Homo sapiens: one gene and its partner. The protein of the gene in region 2 binds, or shares a complex with, the protein of the main gene of each other region. Each region holds a gene or a part of one and is shown on either strand. Other genes may lie near its edges.

The links.
Region 1: CINP (region 2) and AFG2B share a complex: the UniProt entries of both Homo sapiens proteins name them as parts of the 55LCC heterohexameric ATPase complex.

The regions. Positions count from the first base shown.
Region 1 is NC_000015.10:45,419,239-45,422,126, forward strand, and holds the end of AFG2B (ATPase family gene 2 protein homolog B), read left to right. Parts: intron 1-1,804; coding exon 1,805-1,972; 3' UTR 1,973-2,177; downstream 2,178-2,888. UniProt on the Homo sapiens protein: ATP-dependent chaperone part of the 55LCC heterohexameric ATPase complex which is chromatin-associated and promotes replisome proteostasis to maintain replication fork progression and genome stability.
Region 2 is NC_000014.9:102,352,636-102,359,943, forward strand, and holds part of CINP (cyclin-dependent kinase 2-interacting protein), read right to left. Parts: intron 6,953-7,308; coding exon 6,784-6,952; intron 6,268-6,783; exon of another isoform or gene 6,164-6,267; intron 3,263-6,163; coding exon 3,133-3,262; intron 1-3,132. UniProt on the Homo sapiens protein: Component of the DNA replication complex, which interacts with two kinases, CDK2 and CDC7, thereby providing a functional and physical link between CDK2 and CDC7 during firing of the origins of replication.

The DNA of each region.
Region 1 (2,888 bases), on a different chromosome or scaffold from region 2:
GGAGTTTAAGATCAGCCTGGGTAATACAGTGAGACCCCATCTCTAGAAAAAATAAAAAATTAGTCAAATGTGGTGTTAGTCCCAGCTACGTGGGGGACTAGTAGTCCCAGCTACTTGGGAGGGGGAGATGGGAGGATTGCTTGAGCCTGGGAAGCGAAGGTTGCAGTAAGATGAGATCGTGCCGCTGCACTCCAGCCTGGGTGACAGAGTGAGACTCTGTCTCTTAGGAAAAAAAAAAAGCTGAAGGAGTAGACAATGGCCAGGACACACGGGTCCTTGTAAACCACTCTAAGATACCCTTTTTCGTAAACTTTTACTAAATATAACATTCAGAAAAATGCACGGATCATAAGGGTACAGTTCATTGAATTAAAGTGATCACATTTTTATAATCACTACTTATGTCAAGAAATAGAACATTATAAACACCCCAGAATCTTCCTTTGGGCCCTTTCCCAACCTCTGTCACCTACCTTCTTCCAAAAGAGAACTATTGGCTGGGCTTAGTGACTCATGCCTGTAATCCCAGCATTTTGTTGGGGCCAAGGCAGGAGGATCATCTGAGCCCAGGAGTTGAGACCAACCTGGGCAACATGGGGAGACCCTGTCTCTACAAAAACTTTTAAAAAATTGTCCCAGCTACTCAGGAGGCTGAGGTGGGAGGATCACTTGAGCCTGGAGGTCAAGGCTGTAGTGAGCCATGATTGTGTCACTGTACTTCTGCCTGGGTGACAGAGCAAGACTCTGTCCCCCCCCCCCAAAAAAAAAAAAAAAAACAAAAAACAAAACAAAAGGGAACCACTCTCCTGACTAACAACAGTGGGGATTAGTTTTGTCTGCTTTTGAACTTTATATGAATGGAAGCATGTGGCATATGTTATTTTCTGTCTGGTTCTTTAACCTAAAAAGAAATTTATCCATAGTTTTGTGTGTAGCATAGTTTATAATATTCTAGTATATGAATATTCTACATTTGTTTATCCATTCTTTTATTTTGGAATATCTGGGTTTCTACTTTTTTGCTATTATGAGTTATGCTGCTGTGAACAGCCTTGTACATGTCTCTTAGTTCCCGTGTCTATTTATGTCTATTTGTAAACATAGTTAGCTACAAGGAGAATTGCTGGGTCATAGGGTATGTGTTTGATCTATTCCTTTATAATCAGTGCTGGCTGAAGACTCTTCCCTACTTAACGATCAGGAAGATATTCTCTCATCTTTAAAAATACATATGGGTTCATAAAATACATATTAATCTGCAACTTGCCTTTTCTTTCTTCTCATTTAATGCTTTCTTTTTTCCCATTAATGTAAAGAGGTTATGGTCTGCAAAGTGGATTTCTAATCACCTTATTTAACTTTTTAGCATAATGTTTTTAGTGACATGAAAATTAGAATCCTATGAAGTGAGGCTGAGATTTTCCATTCAGAGTTTAAAGTATTACCATATATTGTTAAAAAAAAAAGAAAAGAAGCCAGGCGCTGTGGCTCACACCTGTAATCCCAGCACTTTGGGAGGCTGAAGCAGGTGGATCATGAGGTCAGGAGTTCAAGATGAGCCCGGCCAACATGGTGAAACCCTGTCTCTACTAAAAATACAAAAATTAGTTGGGCGTGGTGGCAGCCTTCTGTAATCCCAGCTACTTGGGAGGCTGAGGCAGGAGAATTGCTTGAAACCAGAAGACGGAGGTTGCAGTGAGTCCAGATCGTGCCACTGCACTCCAGCCTGGGCAATAAGAGCAAAACTCCATCTCAAAGAAAAAAAAGCAAAAGAAATTGTTTTCTATTGCTTGTCTCTTAATAGGCTGCTTTGCTGGCTCTGCAAGAAAATGGACTAGACGCAACTACAGTGAAACAAGAGCACTTTCTAAAATCACTTAAGACTGTAAAACCGTCGTTAAGTTGCAAGGACTTGGCTTTATATGAAAACTTATTTAAGAAAGAAGGATTTTCTAACGTGGAAGGTATTTAAAAATCACCTTAAACTCTTGTTCAGTTCACATTAATTGAAATGTGAACTTGCCTGTCGTTTGCAACTTCACACTTTTAGAATTTGTGTTTATATTTCCTGTAAGTGAATAAATAAAACAAAACAAAACAAAAAAAACTTGTGCCTGATAAGCTAAGGCTCATTTATTTTTAAAAGGCATATTAAATAAAATACTGTAATTTAGGAAGAAAGTGTGTGTGTGTTGATTTTGTTGTAAGGGGTGGTTGGTTTTGGGTGATTGCTTTTTTATTAAACCCTGAAATAATTTCATACTTACAGAAAAGTTGCAAAAATAGTACAAAGAATTTTTATGTGCTCAAACCCAGATTCACTAATCTTTAACATTTTGCCACATTTGCTTTCTCTGTCTTCCCCACCCCTTGTACATATACACATACACACATTTTTTTTTGAGTGGTTTGAGAATAGATTATATACATAATGTCCCTTTCCCCCCTTAATACTTGAGTGTGTATTTGTTACAAATAAGGTTATTATATGACCAAATTCAGCAAATTTAATACTGACACAGTATTTTAATCTATCATCCAGTGAATTTCATGTATGGTCACAATAACGTCCTATATGGTAATTTTCCCCATTACAGGATCCAGTCTAGGATCACACATTTCATTTAGTCACCATGTCTCTTTAGCCTCTTAACTTGAAACAGTGTCTCAATCTTTCTTGACCCTGACATTTTTGAAGAGTATAGACCAATTATTTTATTGAGCAGTTCATTCCTGGACTTGTAGTTGATGTTTTATCATGGTAGATTCAGGTTATGTATTACCAGTCGAGCACTACATAGGGGCATTGTATTCTCAGAGTATCACAGCTGAAGGCACATGACATCTGTACCTTCTTGATAATGTTAATTTTGATCATTTGTTGGCAG
Region 2 (7,308 bases):
TATTCCCAAACCACTTTTCTTTTTCTTTTTTTCTTTTTTTTGACACGGAGTCTCACTCTGTGGCCCAGACTGGAGTGCAGTGGCTTGATCTCGGCTAACTGCAACCTCCGAAAGTGATTCTCCCGCCTCAGCCTCCCAAGTAGCTGGGATTGCAGGCACCTGCCACCACCCCCAGCTAATTTTTTGTATTTTTAGTAGAGATGGGGTTTCACTATGTTGGCCATGCTGGTCTCAAACTCTTGACCTCAGGTGATCCACCTGCCTCGGCCTCCTAGAGTGCTGGGATTACAGGCATGAGCCACTGCGCCTGGCCAAAACAAAAATTAAAAAAAAACAAATAAAAATACAACAATTAGCTGGGTGTGGTGGCAGGCACCTGTAATCCCAGCTACTTGGGAAGCTGAGACAGGAGAATCACTTGAACCCAGGAGGCAGAGGTTGCAGTGGGCAGAGATCACCCCACTGCACTCCAGCCTGGGCAACAAGAGTGAAACTCCATCTCAAAAAAAAAAAAAATTAACAAATGGGAGGGAGGGAACAAATCTCCCACGCAGAATAATTCCAAATAATTTATGTAGATACTGCACCCTCAAGCAGGTGGTGAATACGTCCCTACCCCCAGGTGTGGGCTATGCATAGTGACTTCCTGCCAAAGAGCACAGCGTGGGAGGAGGAGAAAGAGCAACGTCACAGCAGAGGAACCTGGAAACACTGCCCAGCCAGGTGATCAAGGTCAACTTCAGCAGTGGAAAGTCCTGGCTGTGCACAGTGGCTCACGCCTGGAATCCCAGCACTTTGGGAGGCTGAGGTGGGAGCACTGCTTGAGCCCAGGAGTTTGAGACCAGCCCGGGCAATAGGTGGGACCCAAAGAAAAGTCCTGATGACAGTATATCCAGTACGTGCCCTTGATATGACATGATAGAAATGGCACTTTACTTCTGTGGTCCTCCTCTGAACAAAACCCGTAACCTCAGTCTAATTAGGAGAAAAACATCAGATAAATCTCATGATGTTCTACAAAATACCTGACCAGTATCCCTCAACATTGTCAAAGTCATCAAAAACAGGGAAGTCTGAGAAACTGTCACGGCCAAAAGGAGCCTGAGGAAACAAGGGGACTCGATGTCATACAGGATCCTGAAGCCAAAACAAGACATGACGGAAAAGCTAAGGCAGGGCGCCAGGGCTCACACCTGTGATCCCAGCACTTTGGGAGGCCAAGGTGGGAAGATCACTTCATGTCAGGAGTTCGAGACCAGCCTGGCCAACATGAGAACCCCGTCTGTACAAACGAATTTTAAAAATTAGCCGGGCATGATGGTTCATGCTTGTAGTCCCAGCTACTCGGGAGGCTGAGGCAAGAAGATCACTTAAGCCCAGGAAGTAAAGGCTGCAGTGAGCTGTGATCATACTACTGCATTCCACAGCGAGACCTTGTCTCCAAACAAACAAAAAGGTGAAAATATAAAGATCTTAAATGTTTATGGGTAAGCTTCAGTTATCCAAGTTCAAATATGTGTAAAACCTGATTTCCTGTGCCTAGCAAAGAAATAAGGTGGTGTTATCTTCACATCTGGTGGCCAGTATGGTAGGTATTGAAATTTAGTTATTAGTTCATTAAACAAACACTTTAGTCTCTTACGTGCTGTATCAGGGATGGGCAAACTATCCCTGGAACACAGGTCAATTCTGGCCCATAGCCTATTTCTGTATGGCCCATAAGCTAAGATGGTTTTTACATTTTTAAATGGTTGAAAATAACCAAAAGGACAATAGTGATTGTGACTCATAAAAATTATACAAAATTCTAATTTCGGTGTCCAAAGATAAAGATTTCCTGGACGAACATGGTGGCTCACGCCTGTAATCCCAACACTTTGGGAGGCTGAGGTGGGTGGATCACTTGAGGCCAGGACTTCGAGACCAGCCTGGCCAACATGGTGAAACCCCATCTCTACTAAAAATACAACAATTAGCTGGGCATGGTGGCGCACACCTGCGATCCCAGCTATGTGGAAGGTTGAGGCACAAGAATTGCTTGAACCCAGGAGGCGGAGGTTGCAGTGAGCCAAGATCTCGCCACTGCACTCCATCCAGCCTCAGTGGCAGAGTGAGGCCCTGTCTCAAAAAAAACAAAAACAAAAACAAAAAAGGCCAGGTGCGGTGACTCACGCCTGTAATCCCAGCAGTTTGGGAGGCCAAGGCAGGCTGATCACTTGAGGTCAGGAGTTCGAGACCAGCCTGGTCAACATGGTGAAATGCTGTCTCTACTAAAAATACAAAAATTAGCTCATGTGGTGGCACGAGCCTGTAATCCCAGCTACCTGGGAGGCTAAGGCAGCAGAATCACTTGTACCTGGGAGGCGGAGTTTGCAGTGAGCCAAGATCATGCTACTGTACTCCACCCTGGGTATCAGAATGAGACTCCATCTCAAAAAAAAAAAAAAAGAAAATCCAAAAAACAAAGATAAAGTTTTCATGGAATGCAGCCACATCCATTTACGCATATATTATCTATGGCTGTTTAGTCCTATGTGGCAGAGATGAGTAGCTGAGATAGAGACTGGCTGGCCCTGGAAGCCTAAAATATTTACTCTGTGGCTGGGCGTGGTAGCTCATGCCTGTAATCCCAGCCCTTTGGGAGGCCAGCAGGTGGATCACCTGAGGTCAGGAGTTTGAGATCAGCCTGACCAATATGGTGAAACCCTGTCTCAACTAAAAATGCAAAAATTAGCCAGGCATGGTGGCGGACGCCTGTAGTCCCAGCTACTCTGGAGGCTGAGACAGGAGAATCGCTTGAGCCCAGGAGGCGGAGTTTGCGGTGAGCCAAGATCACGCCATTGCACTCCAGCCTGGGCGACAAAGCAAGACTCCATATCATGGAAAAAAAAAAAAAATTTACTATGTGATGAGCCCTGAAAGTGGGTGACATTTCCCCGGATGACGCACAGGAGGAGTGAGTGTCTAAGACAGCATCTTGGGGAACATTAAGGTTTACGCAGCAGGCAGAGGAAGAGAACATCAGAGGAGACTGAGAAGGAGTAAGTGATGGCCAATGGTCAAGCAAACCCCAAATACGTCCATCGGATTCAGTGACAGTGACCACAAGTGGCCTGCGTCTTTATGTCTTACCAACCCATCCAAGGTGGCCTGCAGTTCCTCACACAGCTTCTCCAGTTCCTCGTTATATTCCAGACACACCTTTTCTTCATTTTCCTTCGAGGCTGGGCTGCTGCTGTCTAGTTCTATCTTGTCTTTATTCCTAAACAAAATAGAAAATAATGTGTACAAAATATACTCTTTAAGCTTGCCTTATTTCCTTATAATAAATTCTACAAACCTCTATATCCACATAGTTACGTGGGACATTTTGCATAAGCATTGTTCTTTCATATCATTATGATACAAATGCAGTTATTATTTATATGTGCAATGAATATGTCCATTGGTCACTCAATTTTGCACCAAAATAAGTCAGTTAAATTCAGCCATGTGACAGCCGGTTTTGGTGGCTCATGCCTGTAATCCCAACACTTTGAGGGATGGACGCGGGAGGACTGCTTGAGTCCAGGAGTCTGAGTCCAGCCTGGGCAACACAGTGAGACCTCATCTCCACAAAAATTAAAAGTAAAAATTAGCTGGGCATGGTGGGACACGTATGTGGTCCCAGCTACTTAGGAGGCTCAGGTGGGAGGATCACTTAAGCCCAGGAAGTCAAGGCTGCAGTGAGCCATTATAGCACCACTGCACTCAGCCTGCACAAAAGAGCAAGACTGTCTCAAAAAAAAAAAAAACACCATTCAGCGGTGTGGCATCCTTGGCATAGGGCATGGTGCTGGATGTACAAAGATGAATAAGACATGGATCATTTCCTCAAAGAGTTCACAATCCAGGAATATAGGCACGCCTCATTTTATTGTGCTTCACCTTATTCAGTTTCATAGATAATGCATTTTTTACAAATTGAAGGTTTGTGGCAACCCTCTGTATGTAGAGCAAGTCAATCAGCACCATTTTGCCAACAGCATGTGCTTACTTCATGTCTCTCTATCATATTTTGGTAATTCTTACAATATTTCAAACTTTTTCATTATTATGTCTATGATCTGTGATTGGTAATCTTTGATATTGCTAGTTTAATTGTTTTGAGGTGCCATGAACCATGTGCATATATAACGGCAAGCTTAATGAATGGATGTTGTGTGTTCTGACTGCTCCACTGACCGGCTGCTCCCCTTTCTCCCCATCTCCTTGGGCCTCCCTGTTCCCTGAAATAGGAGGATACTGAAATCAACCCAATTAATAGCCCTACATTGGCCTCTAAGTGTACAAGTGAAAGGAAGAGTTGCATATCTCTCATTTTAAATCAAAAGCTATACTTTGGCCAATTTAAGAAACAAAAAAATTAAAAGCTAGAAATGATTAAGCTTAGTGAGGAAGGCATGTCAAAAGCTCAGATAAGGGGCCAGGTGCGGTGGCTCACGCCTGTAATCCTAGCACTTTGGGAGGCCAAGGCGGGCAGATTGCCTGAGCTCAGGAATTCAAGACCAGCCTGGGCAACATGTGAAACTCCGTCTCTACTAAAATACAAAAGAAATTAGCTGGGCGTGGCGGTGTGCACCTGTAGTCCCAGCTACTTGGGAGGCAAAGGCAGGAGAATTGCTTGAACCCGGGAGGCAGAGGTTGCAGTGAGCCAAGATTGCACCATTGCACTCCAGCCTGAGCGACAGAGCGAGACTCCATCTCTACAAAAAAAAAAAAAAAAAAGCTAAGATAAGCTGAAAACCAGGCCTCTTGTGCCAAACAGTTGGCCAAGTTGTGAAGGCAAAGGAAAAGTTACTGAAGAAAATTAAAGGTGCTACTCCAGTGAACATGTGAATGATGAGTGAAACAGCCTTAGTGTGGATATGGAGAAAGTTTGAGTGGTCTGGATAGAAGATCAAACCAGACACAGCATTCCCTTAAGTCAAAGCCTAATCCACAGCAGGACCCTAACTCTCTTCAATTCTGTGAAGGCTGAGAGATATGAGGAAGTTACAGAAGAAAAGTTTGAGATAGCAGGATTTGGTTCATGAGGTTTAAGGACAAAAGCCATCTCCATAACATAAAAGTGCAAGGTGAAGCTGCAAGCGCTAATGTAGAAGCTGGAGCAAGTTATCCAGAAGATCTACTTAAGATCAGTGATGAAGGTGGCTACATGATACAACAGATTTTCAGTGTAGATGAAACAGCCTTCTATTAGAAGAACATGCCATCCAAGACATTCACAACTACAGAGAAGTCAATGACAGGCTTCAAAGCTTCAAGAGACAGGCTCACCCTCTTATTAGGGGATATTGCAGTTAGTGACTTTAAGTTGAATCCAATGCTCATTTACCATTCTCAAATTCCTAGGGCCCTTAAGAATGATGTTAAATCTACTCTGCCAGTGGAAAAAGCAAGAGAACCAGAACTGGAAGTGGGGTCTGAAGATGGAACTGAATTGCTGCAATCTCATGAGAAAACTTGAACAGATAAGGAATTGTTTCTTATGGATGAGCAAAGAAGGTGGTTTCTTGAGATGGAATCTATTCCTGGGAAAGACACTGTGCACACTGTTGAAATGACAACAAAAGATTGAGAATATTATATAACTTAGTTGATAAACCAGTGTGAGAGGTCTAATGTGGGTAAACACTATTAAACAGCAATGAGAAAGAACAGAACCAGAATAGTGGCTCTACATTACACGCATGGCTTCCATGTTGAAAGACAGTGAGACATGGCTGGGCGCAGTGGCTCATGCCTGTAATACCGGCATTTAGGGAGGCCAAGGTGGGCAGATCACTTGAGGTCAGGAGTTTGAGACTAGCCTGGCCAACATGGTGAAACTCTGTCTCTACTAAACATACAAAAATTAGCCGGGCATGGTGGCAGGTATCTGTAATTCTAGCTACTCAGGAGGCTGAGACAGGAGAACCACTTGAACCTGACAGGCAGAAGTTAGAGTGAGCCAAGATCACGCCATTGCACTCCAGCCTGGGGGATAGAGTGAGACTCGTCTCCAAAAATAAAAAATAAAAAATAGAAAAAGAAAGTGAGATATAAAGGAAACAATAACATATGTTTTTTGTTTACGTAAAATCCAAAAATGGATGAAAAGAATTCATGGTAGTTTTTTCCATATCAGCTAGGTAATGTGCCAACATCATAGCAAAGTTTGAGGAAGGCACAGGTCATACATGAGCATGAAAACCCAATCATTATGCCTATGAACTACAAAAGAATCAAAGAATCTGTGGTTTTAAAAATCAGAATAGCCAGGCACGGTGGCTCACACAGCACTTTGGGAGGCTGAGGCAGGTGGATCACGTAAGGTCAGGAGTTCGAGACCAGCCTAACATGGTGAAAGCCCGTCTCTACTAAAAATACAAAAATTATCTGGGTGTGGTGACGGGCGCCTGTAATCCCAGCTACTCCGGAGGCTGAGGTAGGAGAATTGCTTGAACCCAGGCGGTAGAGGTTGCAGTGAGCTGAGATCGCGCCATCACACTCCAGCCTAGGCAACAGAGTGAGACTTCATCTCCAAAAAAATAAATAAATAAATAACTAAATATATATATATATATATATATATATGGAATATAATTTTGTATTTAAAATGTACAATACAATTTATACTTACACGTATCATCTTACCACTTGCTTTTTTTGCTTAATATTTTATTTTAAAATTTATTCACATTATTTCCCCAGTTATTAAGGGTGAAAAACTTAGAGCATGAAAAACCAATATGTACTTACAATAAACTGATTTTCAAGTTGGCAATATTATTTGCAGTGGTAAAACCTGCATCATTGAGGGTTTCCCACTTCAGGATTAAATTGTGCCAATCAGCCGCATTGTCCTTAATTTTTCTTGCACTGACAGATAAGACAGGTTTTCTGGGCGTTACAGTTCCAAGAGTCTTTGCTGATAGGGTATAAAAGAAACAAAATTATTATCATGGAATATACAATCATAGTTGGAGGGCAAATGTCCTTATAATTTTCAACAGTAAAACTATCTGAAATGCTGTATCAACTGGACAAATAAATGTGGAAACTACAAAGTCTGAATGAATGTGAAAGTTCCTGGAAGAAGACAATATAGAATATTTTTAACATTTTAAAATTCACCAGATAGAGCTGAATCCTCTTCCAGCTTAATGGCTCCACAAAGTTTTTACCTTAAGCCCTTTGTTTTCCAAAGATTGGAAATAAGGTAAAGTTGTGACTGTCTGCTAAAACTCTTCAATGGCTCACGTTCCCTTCCCTACAGGATAATCT